Homo sapiens: one gene and its partners. The protein of the gene in region 4 purifies or fractionates together with the protein of the main gene of each other region. This does not show direct contact. Each region holds a gene or a part of one and is shown on either strand. Other genes may lie near its edges. The genes, in order: WDR73, HTR1E, CD40 and BRAT1.

The links.
Region 1: the proteins of BRAT1 (region 4) and WDR73 purify together in Homo sapiens (affinity purification with mass spectrometry, with the first as the bait; one large-scale study listed by BioGRID). This does not show direct contact.
Region 2: the proteins of BRAT1 (region 4) and HTR1E purify together in Homo sapiens (co-immunoprecipitation; one large-scale study listed by IntAct). This does not show direct contact.
Region 3: the proteins of BRAT1 (region 4) and CD40 purify together in Homo sapiens (co-immunoprecipitation; one large-scale study listed by IntAct). This does not show direct contact.

Annotation. Positions count from the first base shown.
Region 1 is NC_000015.10:84,643,892-84,648,168, reverse strand, and holds part of WDR73 (integrator complex assembly factor WDR73), read left to right. Parts: intron 1-214; coding exon 215-279; intron 280-1,820; coding exon 1,821-1,985; intron 1,986-2,083; exon of another isoform or gene 2,084-2,196; intron 2,197-2,332; coding exon 2,333-2,698; intron 2,699-4,277. UniProt on the Homo sapiens protein: Component of a multiprotein complex required for the assembly of the RNA endonuclease module of the integrator complex. Associates with INTS9 and INTS11 in the cytoplasm, stabilizing the INTS9-INTS11 heterodimer and blocking the active site of INTS11.
Region 2 is NC_000006.12:86,943,515-86,947,791, forward strand, and holds part of HTR1E (5-hydroxytryptamine receptor 1E), read left to right. Parts: intron 1-4,277. UniProt on the Homo sapiens protein: G-protein coupled receptor for 5-hydroxytryptamine (serotonin). Also functions as a receptor for various alkaloids and psychoactive substances.
Region 3 is NC_000020.11:46,121,126-46,125,402, reverse strand, and holds part of CD40 (tumor necrosis factor receptor superfamily member 5 isoform 1 precursor), read right to left. Parts: intron 3,584-4,277; coding exon 3,505-3,583; intron 3,171-3,504; coding exon 3,045-3,170; intron 2,794-3,044; coding exon 2,647-2,793; intron 2,278-2,646; coding exon 2,184-2,277; intron 1-2,183.
Region 4 is NC_000007.14:2,542,025-2,546,301, forward strand, and holds part of BRAT1 (integrator complex assembly factor BRAT1), read right to left. Parts: intron 3,033-4,277; coding exon 2,885-3,032; intron 1,939-2,884; coding exon 1,566-1,938; intron 1,300-1,565; coding exon 1,180-1,299; intron 188-1,179; coding exon 96-187; intron 1-95. UniProt on the Homo sapiens protein: Component of a multiprotein complex required for the assembly of the RNA endonuclease module of the integrator complex.

The DNA of each region.
Region 1 (4,277 bases), on a different chromosome or scaffold from region 4:
ACCATCATGACACATGGAAGCTTGGGCTCAGTCTCCCTAAAGTTGATTGAGCCTGCTCCTTATCTGTGAAATGAGGGTGGTTGGCCTTGATGATCTTGCAGTAAGATGTCCTGATATGGGAAGTGGAGTCCCAAGCTAAGTGTGCTGGAAAGGGGAAGGGACCTGTGTGGATAAGCTCCCCATGGTCTGGACTGATTTTGTCTTTTCTGAATAGATTGCTGGTTACCAGTGGCCTTCCAGGTTGTTATCTGCAGGTGTGGCAGGTTGCAGAGGACAGTGGTGAGTGAATTTGACTTGATGGGGTTTGGGGTTCTAGGAAAGTGTGACTCATACACCCCTGTCCCCTAATCTGAGCCAGTTAAGAAGGAGACTCAGGCTGGGGACAGTCTCATGCCTGTAATTGTAGCACTTTGGGAGGCTGAGCTGGGTGGATCACTTGAATTCAGGAGTTGAAGACCACCTTGTACAACATGGTGAAACCTGTCTCTATTAAAAATACAAAAAATTAGCCGGGCATGGTGGTAGGCACCTGTAATCCCTGCTACTGGGGAGACTGAGGCAGGAGAATTGCTTGAACCTGGGAGGCGGAGGTTACAGTGAGCCGAGATCATGCCACTGCACTCCAGCCTGGGCAACAAGAGCAAAACTCCGTCTCCAAAAAAAAAAGTAGTAGTAGACTCAGAGCCAGGTGGGAATTAATCTACTTTAATGCAGACAAGGTGAATTAGCAACCATAGCATGGCATCCAAGCCCCAAATGGAGCTTCCTGTAACCTGCTCCTGGAATTGAGTTCATCCAGAGAACTACTCTCCCTAGGCAGGGGCAGTGGCAACAGCAGAGCTTAGGCTGCTCAGGTGAGCTCACCTCTTTGGCAGCATTAAGCATATATTAAGAGAAGCCTCAGATGTAGAATACAGAGAGGAGAACCTCCCTGCTAACCAAGCAGGTGGAGACAACCAAATAAAAACTAAAACTTGGCTGGGCGCAGTGGCTCATGCCTGTAATCCCAGCACTTTGGGAGGCCAAGGTAGGTGGGTCACCTGACCAGGAGTTTGAGCCCAGCCCGAGCAACATGGCGAAACCCCGTCTCTACTAAAAATACAAAAAAATTAGCTGGGCATGAGGGTGCACATCTGTAATTCCAGCTACTCAGGAGGCTGAGGCAGAAGAATTTCTTGAACCTGAGAGGCGGAGGCTGCAGTGAGCTGAGATTGTGCCACTGGACTCCAGCCTGGGCAACAGAGTGAGACTCTGTCTCAAAAAAACAAAAGAACCAAAACAAAACTTGACTCAAAGCCAAGGATGTTCCATTCAGTGTAAAAAAGATGTGGACTTTCTTGTCCACCTTACAAGACAATGACATCTGTAATGTGACCTGTACTTGCTAGGCTTTAGCAAGTCACTCGAGGTCATGGAACATGTTTTTGAAGAAATAATATCAGTTCATGAATTCTGTACCTGTTTCTTGTCGCTGAAGGGGTAAGTGACATCAGCAGCATGTTCATTCCTTTTCTTGTCTTCTACCTGTTCTCCACAAAAGTATAAAAAGCCAGAATTGCTTTTTGGGTTTTGAGATGGCATTGTCTTCCATTTGCAAAAAACAGTTTATAAGACAAATAATAAAGAAATTGAAATGTTTCTGATGGTTTCAAAAATGTAAACATAAGCCAGAGTAGTTATGTCTCAACATCATCTCTTGCCAGCCGGCAGCTCCTTTTCTTCCTTGATCTTCTAAATGTACAGGGGAAGACAGCTGGCAGCCTGTCATGTTTCAAACCTTCATTAAAGTTCTGGATTTTGGCCTCTTCGTTTTCCCCTAGATGTCATTAAAGCTGTCAGCACCATTGCTGTGCATGAGAAAGAGGAGAGTCTCTGGCCTAGGGTGGCCGTCTTCTCCACATTGGCACCCGGAGTCCTCCATGGGGCGAGGCTCCGAAGTCTGCAGGTCGTTGATCTGGAGTCCCGGAAGACCACGTACACCTCAGGTACCGTGGTACTTTGTCCCTTGCTTGCTGCTCCAGCCGGCATCACCCCCCAGCCCAACTCAGCCACTATAAAAACTGAGTTCAACTCTCTGTGCCAGGTGTTGGGGATACACAGTGAATAAGAGGTAAGCCCTGGCCTCTAAGGGCTCCTATGCTGGGGCAGGATTAGGCAGTCCCAGGGACCAGCACCCAACCAGCTGAGCAGACAATGGTGAGATGAGTGGGAAGGGAGATGTGATTTATTCTGCCTGGGACTGGTGGGAAGGGACCTGTGACCAGCCAGCCCTGCCAAATTGCCAGACCCATCTGCCTCCAGCCGCTTGTCTCCTTTGCTGTCGGTCTTCCAGATGTCAGTGACAGTGAGGAGCTGAGTAGCCTGCAGGTCCTAGATGCAGACACCTTTGCCTTCTGCTGTGCTTCAGGCCGGCTGGGGCTTGTTGACACCCGGCAGAAGTGGGCACCGTTGGAGAATCGCAGCCCTGGCCCTGGGTCTGGTGGAGAGAGATGGTGTGCTGAAGTTGGGAGCTGGGGCCAGGGCCCTGGGCCCAGCATTGCCAGCCTTGGCTCAGATGGGCGTCTTTGTCTTCTTGACCCCCGGGATCTCTGCCATCCTGTGAGCTCAGTCCAGTGCCCAGTATCCGTACCTAGCCCTGACCCAGAGCTGCTGCGAGTGACTTGGGCCCCAGGCCTGAAGAATTGCTTGGCCATCTCAGGTACTGCCGAGCAGGATTTCGTCTTGTTATCTGATCTCTTTCTTCCAGGAGACTGTTGGGTGCTCAGGAAGGAGCCTCCAGCACCATGATAAACCTGGCTCCAGGAGTTAAAGTTGCTCACAGAGAAATTCGAACTCTCCAGGTTCTTCAGTGGCAGGCCTTTTCCTACCCTGGCTACTAAACTTCCACACATTGGCAGCAGGCCTTTCCTAGCCTAGCAGGAATTCAGGTCTCAGGTTGGTGGAGGGGCCTGCAGACAGTAAGACACTGGGACAGACATCGGGCTGGGTCAGAAAGAAAAGGGGACAGTGGCTAACACGGTGAAACCCCGTCCCTACTAAAAATACAAAAAATTAGCCAGGCATGGTGGCAGGCGCCTGTAGTCCCAGCTACTTAGGAGGCTGAGGCAGAAGAATGGCGTGAACCTGGGAGGCGGAGCTTGCAGTGAGCTGAGATTGCACCACTGCACTCCAGCCTGGGCAACAGAGCGAGACTGTCTCAAAAAGAAAAAAAAAGAAAAAAAAAAAAAAAGCAGCAGGGACAGCACCTCAAGGGTACTTCTCAGCCTACTTGCCTTTTGAAATGTAGCAAGTTGGCCGGGTGCGGTGGCTCACACCTATAATCCCAGCACTTTGGGAGGTCGAGGCGGGTGGATCACAAGGTCAGGAGATCGAGACCATCGTGGCCAACATGGTGAAACCCCGTCTCTATGAAAATAAAAAAAATTAGCCGGGTGTTTTGGTGCACGCCTGTAGTCCCACCTACTTGGGAGGCTGAGGCAGGGGAATCGCTTGAACCCGGGAGTCAGAGGTTGCAGTGAGCTGAGATGACGCCACTGCACTCCAGACTGGCGACAGAGCAAGACTCTGTCTCAAAAAAAAAAAAAAAAAAAAAAGTAGCAAGCCAGCTAGGTCAGCAGGCCCCTGGTTCTGGTCTGGTGGTAGCTAGTTGCTTGCGGCACTTAATGTGGGTATCTAAAAGCCAACAGGAAGGATCCGTCGAGGCAGGTGGGGGTTGAAAAAAATCATTAAGAGAGCAAGAAAGGATGATTGGAAATGCCAGGATCCAGAAAGAACAGAAGAGCCAAGCTCAGGTAGAGGGGCTGGCTCTTCAGTACCAGGAAGATGGCAGGATGGAATGAGTGTGTGTGCAGCTAGATCGTGCAGGGACGTGAAGGTATTTCTCTCCAAAGGCTTCTGTTTCCCCCATCGAGTAGGAGACAAGGCCATCTGCTGAAAGGGACCCAGAGGTAGGGGACTGGACTCTGGGGCAACTTGAAAAGGTTTGAAGAAGTCTCTTAAGCCTCAGTTTCCTGGGTAAAATAACAGTATCTGTGTCATACAGTTCTGAGGATTAAAAGAGCTAATACTTGTCCAGAATTAGCCTTCGAGCCTCACGCATAACAGGTGCACAACGGATGCTCATGGTTACATGCCCCACGGAGTCATCAGCTGCCAACACTGAGGGCAGATGCTACTTGCCCGTGGTTAGCCTTTTAAGTGCCTTGATTCCTCATCCAATAGCCTGTTTTGGTACCATAGAACAAATTATAAAAAGTATTTTAGGGGCTGGGTGCCTG
Region 2 (4,277 bases), on a different chromosome or scaffold from region 4:
GTCTACCTCAGCCTCCTTTCAGGGAAGTTTCTCAAAACAGAATATGCTATTGTGATTCATTGTCACCTGTGATGTCAAACTGCACCTTGTGTTATACTACTAGGGGGTAACACAGCATGGGGCTCAAGCCCAAGCTCTCGAGTCCAGAAAGCCAGGTTCATATCCCAGCTCTGCCATTCATTAACTGCTTTCACATCTCTAAACCTCAGTTTCCTCATTTGTTGGGGCTCACATAACAGTACTATGTCATAGGGCTATTTATGAGGATTAAATGTGTGTATTCATTATTGCTAAATAATAAATTACCCCAAAACCTAATGGCTTAAAGCAACAGATTTTTATTATCTCTATGATCATAGTTCCATGGGTTGGGAATCTGGGTATGGCTTAGCTAGGTCCTCTGGCTCAGGTCTGTCACTCACAGGCTGCAAAGTTTCAGCCGAGACTGCAGACATCTCAAGGCTCAACTGGGGAAAGGTAACGCTTCCAAGCTCGCTCACGTGGCTGTTGACAAGCCTCAGGTCCCAGCTGGCTGCTGGCTGGAGACGTTCTTTTGCTACCACATGGACCTCTCTATAGGGCTACTAACAAAACAGAGTGCTTCATGCAGATGTTGCAGCTTGCTGTCCTTGGAGCAAGGGCTAAGATTGAAAGATAGCAAAATAGAAGCCAAGGTCTTTTTGTAACCTGATATCAGAAGTGATATCCCATGGCTTCTGCTGTGTTCCTCATTAGAGACAAGTCACTAGTTTCAGCCTAATTCAAGGGGAAGGGATTACACAGTGGGAGGAATACCTACAGGAACCAAATCATTGAGAGCCACCTGAGATACTGCCTGCCACAATATAAGACATCAGAAGCTGTTTGATAAAGACTCAATTCAGTATCACCTCGTGGTTTTATCTCATAGTAATGTTCTCAGACTGAAATTAGATAATCTGTCAAAGAATTTGTAAAATATAAAGCTCTATACAATATCAAGATTTTATTAGTTTTATTAATGCTGAGAATCCAGTTCCACTTTATAGATAGTGATATAAGAACAGCAAATCAATGATTAAGAGATGTGAATTTTACACCTTGCTGTGTGTGTGACCTTGGAAAAGCCATTTATTTGTTTCATACCTTAGTTCTCTCATGAAAGTGATGATAATAACAGACTTACCAGGATAAAATAGATAATAGACAGCCATGCAGCACATTGACAATATTTTGGTCACCCACAAACCACATATATGACAGTGGTCCCACAAATTATAATGGAGCTGAAAAATTCCTACAGCCTAGTGACATCATCGCTATTGCAATGTTGTTGTAGCACAATGTATCGCTCATGTGCTTGTGATGAGGCTGGTGTAAGCAAACCTGTGCTGCCAGTTGTATAAAAGTATAGCACATACAATTATGTATAGTATATAATACTTGATAATAAACAACTGTTACTGGTTTATACATTTACTGTACTATACTTTTTATCATTATTTTGGGGTGTGTTCCTACTTAATTAAAAAAAAAAAGTGAAAAGAAGTTTAACTGTAAAACAGCCTCAGGCAGGTCCTTCAGAAGGTATCCCAGAAAACAGCATTGTTATTACAGGAGATGACAGCTCCATGCATGTTATTGCCCCGAAGGACCTTCCAACGGACAGGATGTGTAAATAGATACAGTGATACTGATAATCCTGAGCCTGTGTAGGCTAAGGCTAATGTGTCTGTATCTTAGTTTTGTTTGTTTGTTTGTTTGTTTGTTTGAGACAGAGTCTCAGTCGCCCAGGCTGGAGTGCAGCAGCACAATCTCACCTCATTGCAACCTCCGCCTCCCAGGTTCAAGCAATTCTCCCACCTCAGCTTCCTAGTAGCTGGGATTACAGGCACTCACCACCATGCCCAGCTAATTTTTTGAATTTTTAGTAGAGACGGGATTTCACCATATTGGCCATGCTGGTCTTGAACCCCCGACCTCAAATGATTCGCCCGCCTCAGCCTCCCAAAGTGCTGGGATTACAGGCGTGAGTATCTTAGTTTTTAACAAAAAAGTGTGAAAAGGAAAGAAAAAATTTAAAGTTTTAAAAATAGAAAAAAGTTTATAAAATAATGTTATAAATAATGAGAATATTTTTGTATAGCTATACAATGTGTTTTAAGCTAAGTGCTATTACAAAAAGAGTCAAAAAGGTTTTTTTAATTTAAAAGTTTGGGGGTTTTTTGTTTTGTTTTTGTTTTTGTTTTTGTTTTTTTGAGATGACGTTTCTTTCTTGCCTCCCAGACTGGAGTGCAGTGGCGTGGTGATCCCAGTTCACTGCAACGTCCGCCTCCCCAGTTTCAAGCAATTCTCCTGCCTCAGCCTCCCAAGTAACTGGGATTACAGGCATGTGCCACCATGCCCAGCTAAATTTTGTATTTTTAGTAGAGATGGGGATTCACTATGTTGGCCAGGCTGGTCTCAATCTCCTGACCTCAGGTGGTTTACCTGCCTCGGCCTCCCAAAGTGCTGGTATTACAGGCATGAGCCACCACACCCGGCCTAATTAAAAAGTTTATAAAGTAAAAAAGTTATAGTAAGATAAGGTTAACTTATTATTGGAGAGAGAAAAAATGGTTTTTACAAATTAGGTATAGCTTAAGTGTACAGTGTTTTTAAAGTCTACAGTAGTGTACAGTAATGTACTAGGCCTTCATATTCGCTCAACACTGACTCACTGACTCACCCAGAGCAGCTTCTAATCCTGCAAACTCCATTCATGATAAGTTCCCTACACAAGTATCCCATTTTTTATCTTTATACCATATTTTCACTGTACCCTTTCTACGTTTAGATACACAAATACTATTGTGTTACATTTGCCTACAGTATTCAATACAGTAACATGCTGTCTGGCTTTGTAGCCTAGAAGCAATAGGCTATGCCACATAGCCTAGGTGTGCAGTAGGCTACACCATCTAGGTTTGTGGAAGTACACATCTTGATGTTCACACAATGATGAAATGGCCTAACAATGCATTTCTCAGAATGTATGATGCATGGCTATATATAAAATTATGCTGAAATCTAAAAAAATGAGATGATGGTCATAATGACAATGATGAAGATGACTATATGTTTCAGCTTCTACTCCATGGTCCTTTGAGGACAACTGAAGTAACTAGATATGATTTTTGTCAGTTGTGTTTTAAGTGTATGTATCAAATCCAGCTACCCCAAGTTTTACAATAACTTTATATGGTTTAATCTTATCTTGCTGAACACATTAGATATGCTGCCCTGAAAAGTGGCTTGCAAACAGAATTTTTAGAAACTGAACCATAATTAAAATGCACAGAGGCCGGGCACGGTGGCTCACACCTGTAATCCCAGTACTTTGGGAAGCCAAGACAGGCGGATCACCTGAGGTCAGGAGTTTGAGACCAGCCTGACCAACATGAAGAAACCCTGTCTCTACTAAAAATACAAAATTAGCCATGCGTGGTGGCACATGGCTGTAATCCCAGCTACTCAGGAAGCTGAGGCAGGAGAATCGCTTGAACCCAGGAGGCGGAGGTTGTGGTGAGCCGAGATCGCGCCATTGCACTCCAGCCTGGGCAACAAGAGCGAAACTCTGTCTCAAAAAAAAAATGCACAGAGAAGGTTTCCATGTATCTAGTGGAATTGTACAATGCTTATGTGATCTTGTGATATCATTAATATTTTGTAATATAAATAATTATCCTCATTATTTTAATTTTCTGGCATTGTAGCAACACCTGTATAAATATTTATAGTTACTTAAGAACTCACAAAACAACCTTTTGAAGTAGGCAAATAAAACCAACTCTTGGTTATCTCAAAGAGTTCTTTTTGTTTGATTCTTGTGTTATCTACATTTCTTCTCTCACTGTAAATTGGCATAAATTTGGCAGATACAAAACAAGTAAAGTTCAAACTCCTCCACTCAACCACTTTAAGGGATTTTTTTTCCTGCTTATAAGTATATCACATGTTCATTGTAGAAAATTTGGAAATGCAGAAAAGTATAAAAAATGTAGTTAAAGTTACTCTTATTGCCACCACCAAGAGGCAGCCACTATTGATACTTTGATGAATTTCTGCCTTAGTGCTTTCCCTCTCTATAGGGAGAAAAGAGTGGTTTCTTTTTCAATGAAATCAGGAGTATGTTATATACTTTTCTTGTGTTCTGCTTTCTCTAATTAACATTATTTTTTAAATGATATTTCCATTTATTGATTCAACAACATAAATTAGTAAATATTGACTATATCCAAAGTGGAATTTGGATGAAC
Region 3 (4,277 bases), on a different chromosome or scaffold from region 4:
CCAGCTAATTTTTGTATTTTTAGTAGAGACAGGGTTTTACCATATTAGCCAGGATGGTCTCGATCTCTTGACCTCATGATCTGCCCTCCTCGGCCTCCCAAAGTGCTGCAATTACAGGTGTGAGCCACCACGCCCGGCCTACTTTAGTCTTACATGAGTAGAGCATTCAGGAATTTACAATACACTTTACATGTTTTTAGCTCAAGCCTTGTGAAATGAAGGTCATTCCCATTTTTCAGATGAGGAGACTGAGGCTCAGTGAGGGTCACACACTTACTGAGCTGTAATCAGATACGTAAGCCAATGCACTGATTCCATTAATACTATACCACTGGTGGCCGGGCACGGTGGCTCACGCCTGTAATCCCAGCACTTTGGGAGGCCAAGGCAGACGGATCACGAGGTCAGGAGATCAAGACCATCCTGGCTAACACGGTGAAACGCCGTCTCTACTAAAAATACAAAAAAATTAGCCGGGTGTGGTGGCGGGCGCCTATAGTCCCAGCTACTCAGGAGGCTGAGGCAGGAGAATGGCGTGAACCTGGGAGGCAGAGCTTGCAGTGAGCCGAGATTGCGCCACTGCACTCCAGCCTGGGCGACAGAGTGAGACTCTGTCTCAAAAAAAAAAAAAAAAAAAAAAAAAAAAAAAAACTATACCAGTGGTGCCTCCAGTTATCAGTCAACATTTATCAGTAAAAATTTAAGCACCTACCATGCGTCAGGTACTGTTCCAGGTATAGGGGATGTATCAATGGAAGAAAAAAAAAAGGCCAAGTTTCTACATTTAAGGAATTTTCAATCTATTAGGGAAAGGCAGACAGTTAACAAATAAAATGTATACTCCTATTTGTGCAAAAGTAAAAGGAGGGAAATTTTGTGTGTGTTTGTGTGTGTGTGTGTGTGTGTTGGTTTGTTTATATGTAGAATCTCTGGAAGGATATGCAAGGAACAATGGCTCCCTCCAGAAAGAACTGGGAGCCTAAGGGGCAGGGATGGGAGAAAGACATCACTTTGGCTCTTTTGTGCCTTCTGTCCCATGTGCCTATCTTGCCCATTTTTAAAAATCAAATGCAAAAAGTTAATGGGGCAGGTGTTTGTTTTTTGAGACAGAATGTCGCTCTGTTGCCCAGGCTGGAGTGCAGTGGCGCTATCTTGGCTCACTGCAAACTCCACCTTCCGGGTTCAAGTGATTCTCCTGCCTCAGCCTCCCGAGGAGCTGGGATTACAGGCGCCCACCACCACACCCAGCTAATTTTTTGGTATTTTTAGTAGAGATGGGTTTTTACCATGTTGTGCTGGCTGGTCTTGAACTCCTGACCTCAAGTGATCCACCCGCCTTGGCATCCAAAGTGCTGAGATTACAGGCAAGAGCCACCGCGCCTGGCCTGGGGCCCATGTTTAAGGTATTCCAGGCAGATGAGTTTGATGGAAGAGAATGAACAGTGTGTTCAGAGGATTGCAAGTAGCATGAAGCTATGCGATGCAGGAAAGAGAGCAGGAAATGCAACAGGAAGGTTGGGTGCCATGCTAAGGAGTCTTAGTTCCAACAGAGAGACAGGAAGCATCTCAAATAGGAGAGTGTCATGATTTGAAAGAAACTGTCGAACGCTCATGTTGGCAAGAGGATGGAGACAGAACCAGCAGGAGGGGAGAGACAGAGGCAGGGAGGCCAGGAGGCAGAAAAGGCATCACCCAGACCACAGTGATGAGGCCCAAACTAAAGTGACAACAGTGGAGACAGTAAGTTCCCAAAACACGTAGACAGCCAGTGGCAGGACCTGGTGTGGGTTTGGAGTTGGAGGTAAGAGAGGGAGGCCCTCAGGGTGAGCACCCAGAGCCCAGAAAGCCCTAGAAAGCCAGGTAAGGTGAAAGCAAGACGAGGAAAACTGAGGAGAAGCAGGAGGGGCAGAAGGAAAGCTAAAATAAGTGTCCCAATACCCCCAAGATAGGAGGCTCTCATGAAGCGAGAGATCAACAGTGTCTATTACCTCAAAGAGACAGCAGGCAAAAAAAATGTGGAAATGTGCCTGTCTGGTTGGCCATGAGGCCACTCTGCAGATGCTTCACAAGTACATGAGTGTGTGTGGACCTCTGGGAGCAGGGACAGGACAGGTGGCTGGAGAGAATGGAGGCAGCTCCATGCCACTCTTAGAGCAGGAAACACAAGGGATGAGTGCTTATACCTTGTCCAAGGGTGACATTTTTCGAAAGCAGATGACACATTGGAGAAGAAGCCGACTGGGCAGGGCTCGCAGATGGTATCAGAAACCCCTGTAGCTGGGAGTGGGTGGGGAGGGGGACATTAACCATCACAGTGGACCACCTGTCCGGCTCACAAGGCAGCCAGTGGCCAGGCAGGACGGGAAGAGCTCCTGCCTTGAGCACTCTTCCCCCGATGTGGTACTGCCCCCGACAGCTGCAGTCCCCAGGAGGACTTCTCCCATTGCCCTTCAAAGGCAGATCCCCATGGCAGAAGGCAGAATGAACAAGGTCCCGTCTGCAGCTCACTCCAGTGGGGATACCGACATAGGTTGGAGCCTCTGCTTCCTCTGCCTCTGGGGCTAAGTGCCCACTGCCCAGCCCCTCACCTTGGGCCCTAAGCTCCTCTGTCCCCCTCCAAAACTGATTCCCAGATGAGCCACTTACCAATCTGCTTGACCCCAAAGCCGGGCGAGCATGAGCGGTGCAGGACACAGCTCTCACAGGCCTCACTCGTACAGTGCCAGCCTTCTTCACAGGTGCAGATGGTGTCTGTTTCTGAGGTGCCCTTCTGCTGGACCCGAAGCCCTAGGTCTGAGAAGAGAAGGGCAGGAAGGATGGGAACCCCCTGCTGGGCCATGCTCTGAGCCTCACTCCCCACATTGCCTGCTCTTTCTTCCTCAGACCCTCTTCCAAGTAGAGATGGCAATCAAATCATTTAATGATCAGTACAGCCCGGACTCCAACCAATCAGAGCAGACCCTGGCTACATAAAATTAGAATGGCTGCATTGTCGGGAATATCAGCCCGGTTCCCAAGCGTCCCTTTCCCAACAGCGCACGCACTGGGGTCGCAGTATTTGTGCTGGTGGCAGTGTGTCTCTCTGTTCCAGGTGTCTAGGAATTCGCTTTCACCGCAAGGAAGGCATTCCGTTTCAGTGAACTCTGTGCAGTCACTCACCAGTTTCTGTCCTGGAAAACATCAGGAAATGAGGGAGGGCTCTGGCCAACTCCATGAGTCAGACACTAACCACACAATGATCAGGCCAGGCTTTAGGGTAGGGGATTCAAAGATGAAAGTCTTGGATCCTTCATAATCAGGCGAGGAAGATGGAGAAGCTGGGATCCCTAGTTCAGGGTAGACAGAGTTTTACCTGGTAGAGAGGGAACCAGAACATTCTGACAGTGAAGCAGGGCTGGGAAATGGGTCGTTTCAGATTTGAGTTTACAGTTAACATATGGGGTCTGCGTCTGCCACCAAAGCAAAGGGGGACTCCATGATGGGGCTAGAGGGTTGGCATCTCACCTGGCTGGCACAAAGAACAGCACTGACTGTTTATTAGGTACTGTTTTTCTCTGCATGCAGTGGGTGGTTCTGGATGGACCTAAAAACAGAATTGTGCAATTTGAAGGGATCTTGAAATCTCCGTTGCAACTTCTTCAGCAGAAAGGTAAAAGTCATCCAGGACAGAGGCTGCAAACTGAAGTGCAAGTCAAAACAGAAAGTGGAACCTGCATGATATTTGGCATGTTTGTTTTCAAGTAAATTGTCAACTGAGCTGATTATAATCGCACCCAGAGAATCATTCTGGTATTTTTACAAAGCAATGGTACTGTAAACTCACAATATTCTCTGAACAGAACAGAATTCCTTGGGGCTTGATGCCTGAGTCATTCCTCTTCCCAAAGATCCCATAGGATATGGGGACTCCAGCAGCTCCCCTGGAGTCCTGAAGCTGGCTGACTTCAGCTGGTCCCAGTGCTGTTTGGGGCTATGTTTAGCACTTGGCCTCTTCCTCCTATTCTTCTGCTTCCCTTCCTGCTCCTTTCCAAAGCCCATCATGTTTTCTTCCTCCAACTCCTCATCATCTGTTCATCCAGCCCTTCCCTCATAAAATGCTAGAATGTAAAGCTGGAAGGGTAAACTCACACTTTCATTTTACAGATAGTTGAGACTGAGCACCAAAGAGGAGGGTCACTTGCCCAGAGTCTCACAGTGACAGAGTCCAAATGAGAACTCAGGTCTCAATGCTCCTCTCTCCATCAACTTGTGTTTCATCTTCACCATTTTACTACATC
Region 4 (4,277 bases):
GGCGGGGGTGGCGAGCCAGCTACTCTCATCCATCTCCCTTCCCCCAGCCGCAGGGACCCAGGTTCTGCCCTCCCAGCCCTTTCTAAGCAGCACACCTGGGGGTCCGGGGGCCTGAACCGTGGCCTTCAGGACACAGGCCAGGGGCTGGAGAAGGACCTGGAAGGCCTGGGTCCTCAGTGCCTGTGGACTGGAGACAAACGCGAGGTGAGTGCCGCGACCCTGGCTGCGAGACAAGTTGGCTGTGCTCCTAATGTCCCCAGCAAGCCTGGGGCAAATCAGCCAGGGGGTTGGGACACCCCCCGAGAAACATTCTCTGCAGGCCACTGGCCAGGGGATGCCATGGGACAGAGTGGCGGGGAGGACAGGCCTGACCAAGGAGATGGGCCTGACACTCCTGATGTCCTTAGGAGCAGATACTGAGGGGCCTCCAGGAGGGCCTGGCCATGCACCCAGAGAGAGGGGCAGTGCCCGCTCAGGGGGACAGGGATGGGGTGCCCCCAGGTGTGTACAGCGTCCACTCTGTGGGAGGGACCTGCCCTCACGTCTGGGCCTAGGTGGAGGCAGTGTCCCCACAATGCATTCCTGCAGGGCCGGGCCTGTTCCTCCATCCTCCCCCGGTCTACTCTCTCCTAAACATTCGGAGACCCCGGAGCTCAGAGCTGGACCCTCATGGTACCCCTGGGCCCTGTGGGCAGCAGGTCCTGAGGTCACTTCCACCCCTATTGTGAGCCCACCTGGAACACTGGCAGGCCATCCACGGCCTTCCCACCTGTCCTGACCCCAGGCTCTGCCGTTGCACCGCCCCCAGGCCCCCCACCCGCATGGTGTGTGTGCTGGGGAGCTCCGAAACCCCCAACCAAAGCTGCGGTGGGGGACAGGTGGGAGGGCAGCGGAGCGCAGGGCGTCGGCAGGACCACCCTGCTCTGAGCAGAGCAGCTCCCGCATCCTTCTCACCTCTGGGGATCTCGCAGAGCTTTGGTCTGAAACAATTATTCTGTTGCTAAAGAACCTTCAGAAGCTGCCGCGCGCAACCCACGCACCACCCAGTCACACCCCGCACGGCCGCCTGACTGTCCCTGGTGTCCGGAACTCCCCTGCCATGAGGGCTGCGCTCTCAACCTCCCTGCCTGCCCCAGCTCCCAGCACCCGCCTCGGAATGAAATGCACCCCAGACCATACCAGTGCTCGAGCTTCAGGATCCCCAAAGCCAGGGGTCCCATGTGGGTGGGACCCAGGCAGCTCAGAGCCCGCGCCACTGTCTCCCACAGGCTGCCGTCGGAAGAACTGAACACGGGAGAACTGCAGGGAGACCCCAGAGAGAAAAATTACTCCCCCACCCTCAAAACCCCATTCGAGGCCTGGCTGAGACTGCCATGGCTCCGGCACTGGAGGCGCCCAGCCCAAGACAGGCCTTTCCCCATGAGGGTTCCAGGGTCACCCCGGTGCCGCTTCACTGCAGGCCATGTCCTCAGAGAGTCTCCGGCTGCCAGTGGGACATCCCTGGGCGTTATCCGAGGAAAACAGTTGCCCACCCAGGCCCCCCAGCTGCGTCCCGGGGCCCTGACCGAGCCACACAGAGAAGCAGGTCCACGAACGAGTGTGCGGCGGGGATGGGGTCTCTCTCCAGCAGACAGGCCACGCGGGGACTCAGCCGCACCCACAGGGCTTCCGTCCAGGGGCTCTGGCAGCGCCCGAAGGTCGTGGTCAGGACGTTCAGGGCCTGAGTGACCTTGGGGGTGGCCGCGGAGCACAAGGACTCTTCAACGTGATCCATGATCTTCTGGGCACACGCGGGCCAGTCACCCCCCGGCAGGCAGGGCTGCCCCTCGGCTCCACCTCGCATGGACAAAGCCAGGACGTGCACCAGGAGCTGACTGGCCGCCGAGGCCACAAACAGGCTGGAGTCTCCCTGCAGGGAGAAGATGGTGTCGACCGCACCTGGGTAGGGGATGGGGGAAGAGAGGGAAAAGGGGGTGAGCCAGAATAGAGCTGGGGGAGGCAGAGGGCCTCAGGGAAGATACAAATAGCAGAGGGCCCCCCAAGATGCCCCCAAATGCCTCTCCACTCAAAAGCAAAAAAGAACAGGAACTGAAGCTCCCTGGAGACAAGCACCTCCTCCCCCCGAGCGTTAAACACACACAGCTTGTGATGCTTCCCAATTCGTTCCTTCTTGTTGTTTTTTTTTTTTTTTTTTTTGAGACAGAGTCTTGTTCTGTTGCCCAGGGTGGAGTACAATGGTGCGATCTCAGTTCACTGCAACTTCCACCTCCCAGGTTCAAGCCATTCTGCCACCTCAGCCTCCCAAGTAGCTGGGATTACAGGCACCCGCCATCATGCCCGGCTAATTTTTGTATTCTCGTAGAGACAGGGTTTCACCATGTTGGCCAGGCTGGTCTTGAACTCCTGACCTCAGGTGATCCACCCGCCTCGGCCTCCCAAAGTGCTGAGATTACAGGCGTGAGCCACCGTGCCCAGCCTCGTTTCTTGTTTTTTTGAGACGGGGTCTTGCTCTGTTGCCTAAGTTGGAGTGCAGTGGCTCAACCACTGCTCACTGTAGCCTCGAACCCCTGGGCTCAAGTGATCCTCTTGCTTCAGCCTCCCGAGTAGCTGGGACTATAGCCACGCATCACCACGCCTGGCTCCCAAATAGTTTCAAAGACTGAGTCCTCACGGCTGATCTGTAAGTGGCTGAGAAAGCCGTCCTGGCTCCTAGGGCCTGACCTGCCAACCAGAGAACACTGGACAGCCGTACTGTCACAGTGCAGTCTTTGCAACAACCCTGAGACATCGCACAGACCAGACACTCAGATTCAGCAAGGTGCAGTGAATTCCCTGGGATCACACAGGCAGGATGAGGAATGGGGTGGGGTGTGGGCGCACTCACCATGGTCGGCCAGGAAGCGCAGGGCGCTGGGGTGCTGTGCCAGGGAGCGCAGGCCCTGGATCCAGCCGCTGCGCACGGTGGGGACGGCCCAGGTTGCTCGGCCGAGGGGTCCTGGCTCCCCAAAGAGCCCTGGTAGTAACTCCCCCTGCTGGGAAGCAAAAAAAGAAGTGAGGGTGGCCAGGCGCAGTGGCTGAAGCCTGTAATCCCAGCACTTTGGGAGGCCGAGGAGGGCAGATCACGAGGTCAGGAGTTCGAGACCAGCCTGACCAACATGGTGAAACCCCATCTCTACTAGAAATACAAAAATTTGCTGGGTGTGGTGGCATGCACCTGTAATCCCAGCTACTAAGAAGGCTGAGGCAGGAGAATTGCTTGAACCCGGGAGGCGAAGGTTGCAGTGAGCCAAGATCGCACCACTGCACACCAGCCTGGGTGACACAGCGAGACTCCATCTCAAAAAAAAAAAAAAAAAAAAAAAAAAAGAGGTGAGGGGACCTGGTAGGTTTCCAGGGATGTGGAGCAAAGCAGAGATGGGTTTTCAGTTTTCCAGGGCTGGTGGAGATACTTCTGGAGGACACTTTCTTCTTCTTTTTTTTTTTTTTGAGACAGTCCCACTCTGTTGCCTAGGCTGGAGTGCAGTGGCACATCTCGGCTCACTGCAACCTCTGCCTCCTGGGCTCAAGCTATTTTCCTGTCTCAGCCTCCTGAGTAGCTGGCATTACAGGTGCCCACCACCACACCCAGCTAATTTTTTCATTTTTAGTAGAGACAGGGCTTTACCATGTTGGTTAGCCTGGTCTCGAACTCCTGACCTCAGGTGATCCGCCTGCCTCAGCCTCCCAAAGTGCTGGGATTATAGGCATGAGCCACCGTGCCCAGCCTGGAGGGTACTTTCATACCAGCTGCTGACAGACAAGGGCCCCCGGATTCACTGTACGGCAGCACCCTAGGACACCTTGGAAAGTCTGTCCTGCAGCAAGATGGTGCCTGGGTGGGCTGCTAGGGAGCCTGCAGCTGCTTAACTGGGGGGCATCGTGAACGGCAAGCTAACGGTACTGGATGTGCCTTCGCACAACCTGGCGAGGGCCTGTGAGGCACCAAGAGAAGCCGTCGTGGTAGACGGGCAAGGGCCCTGAAGCTCACACCACGCATCCCGACAGACTCAGCGGTGCCTGTCTGAGGCACTTGAAGCTGGAAGACACAGCTCTGGGAGGCTCTCGAGCTCTCATGCCTTGCTATGTAGAAATTCTTGGCTGGGAGCAGTGGCTCACGACTGTATCCCAACACTTTGGGAGGCCGAGGCAGGATGATCGCTTGAGACCAGGAGTTTGAGACCAGCCTGGGCAACATAGTGAGACCCCATCTCTACCAAAGATAACAAAGTTAGCCAGGT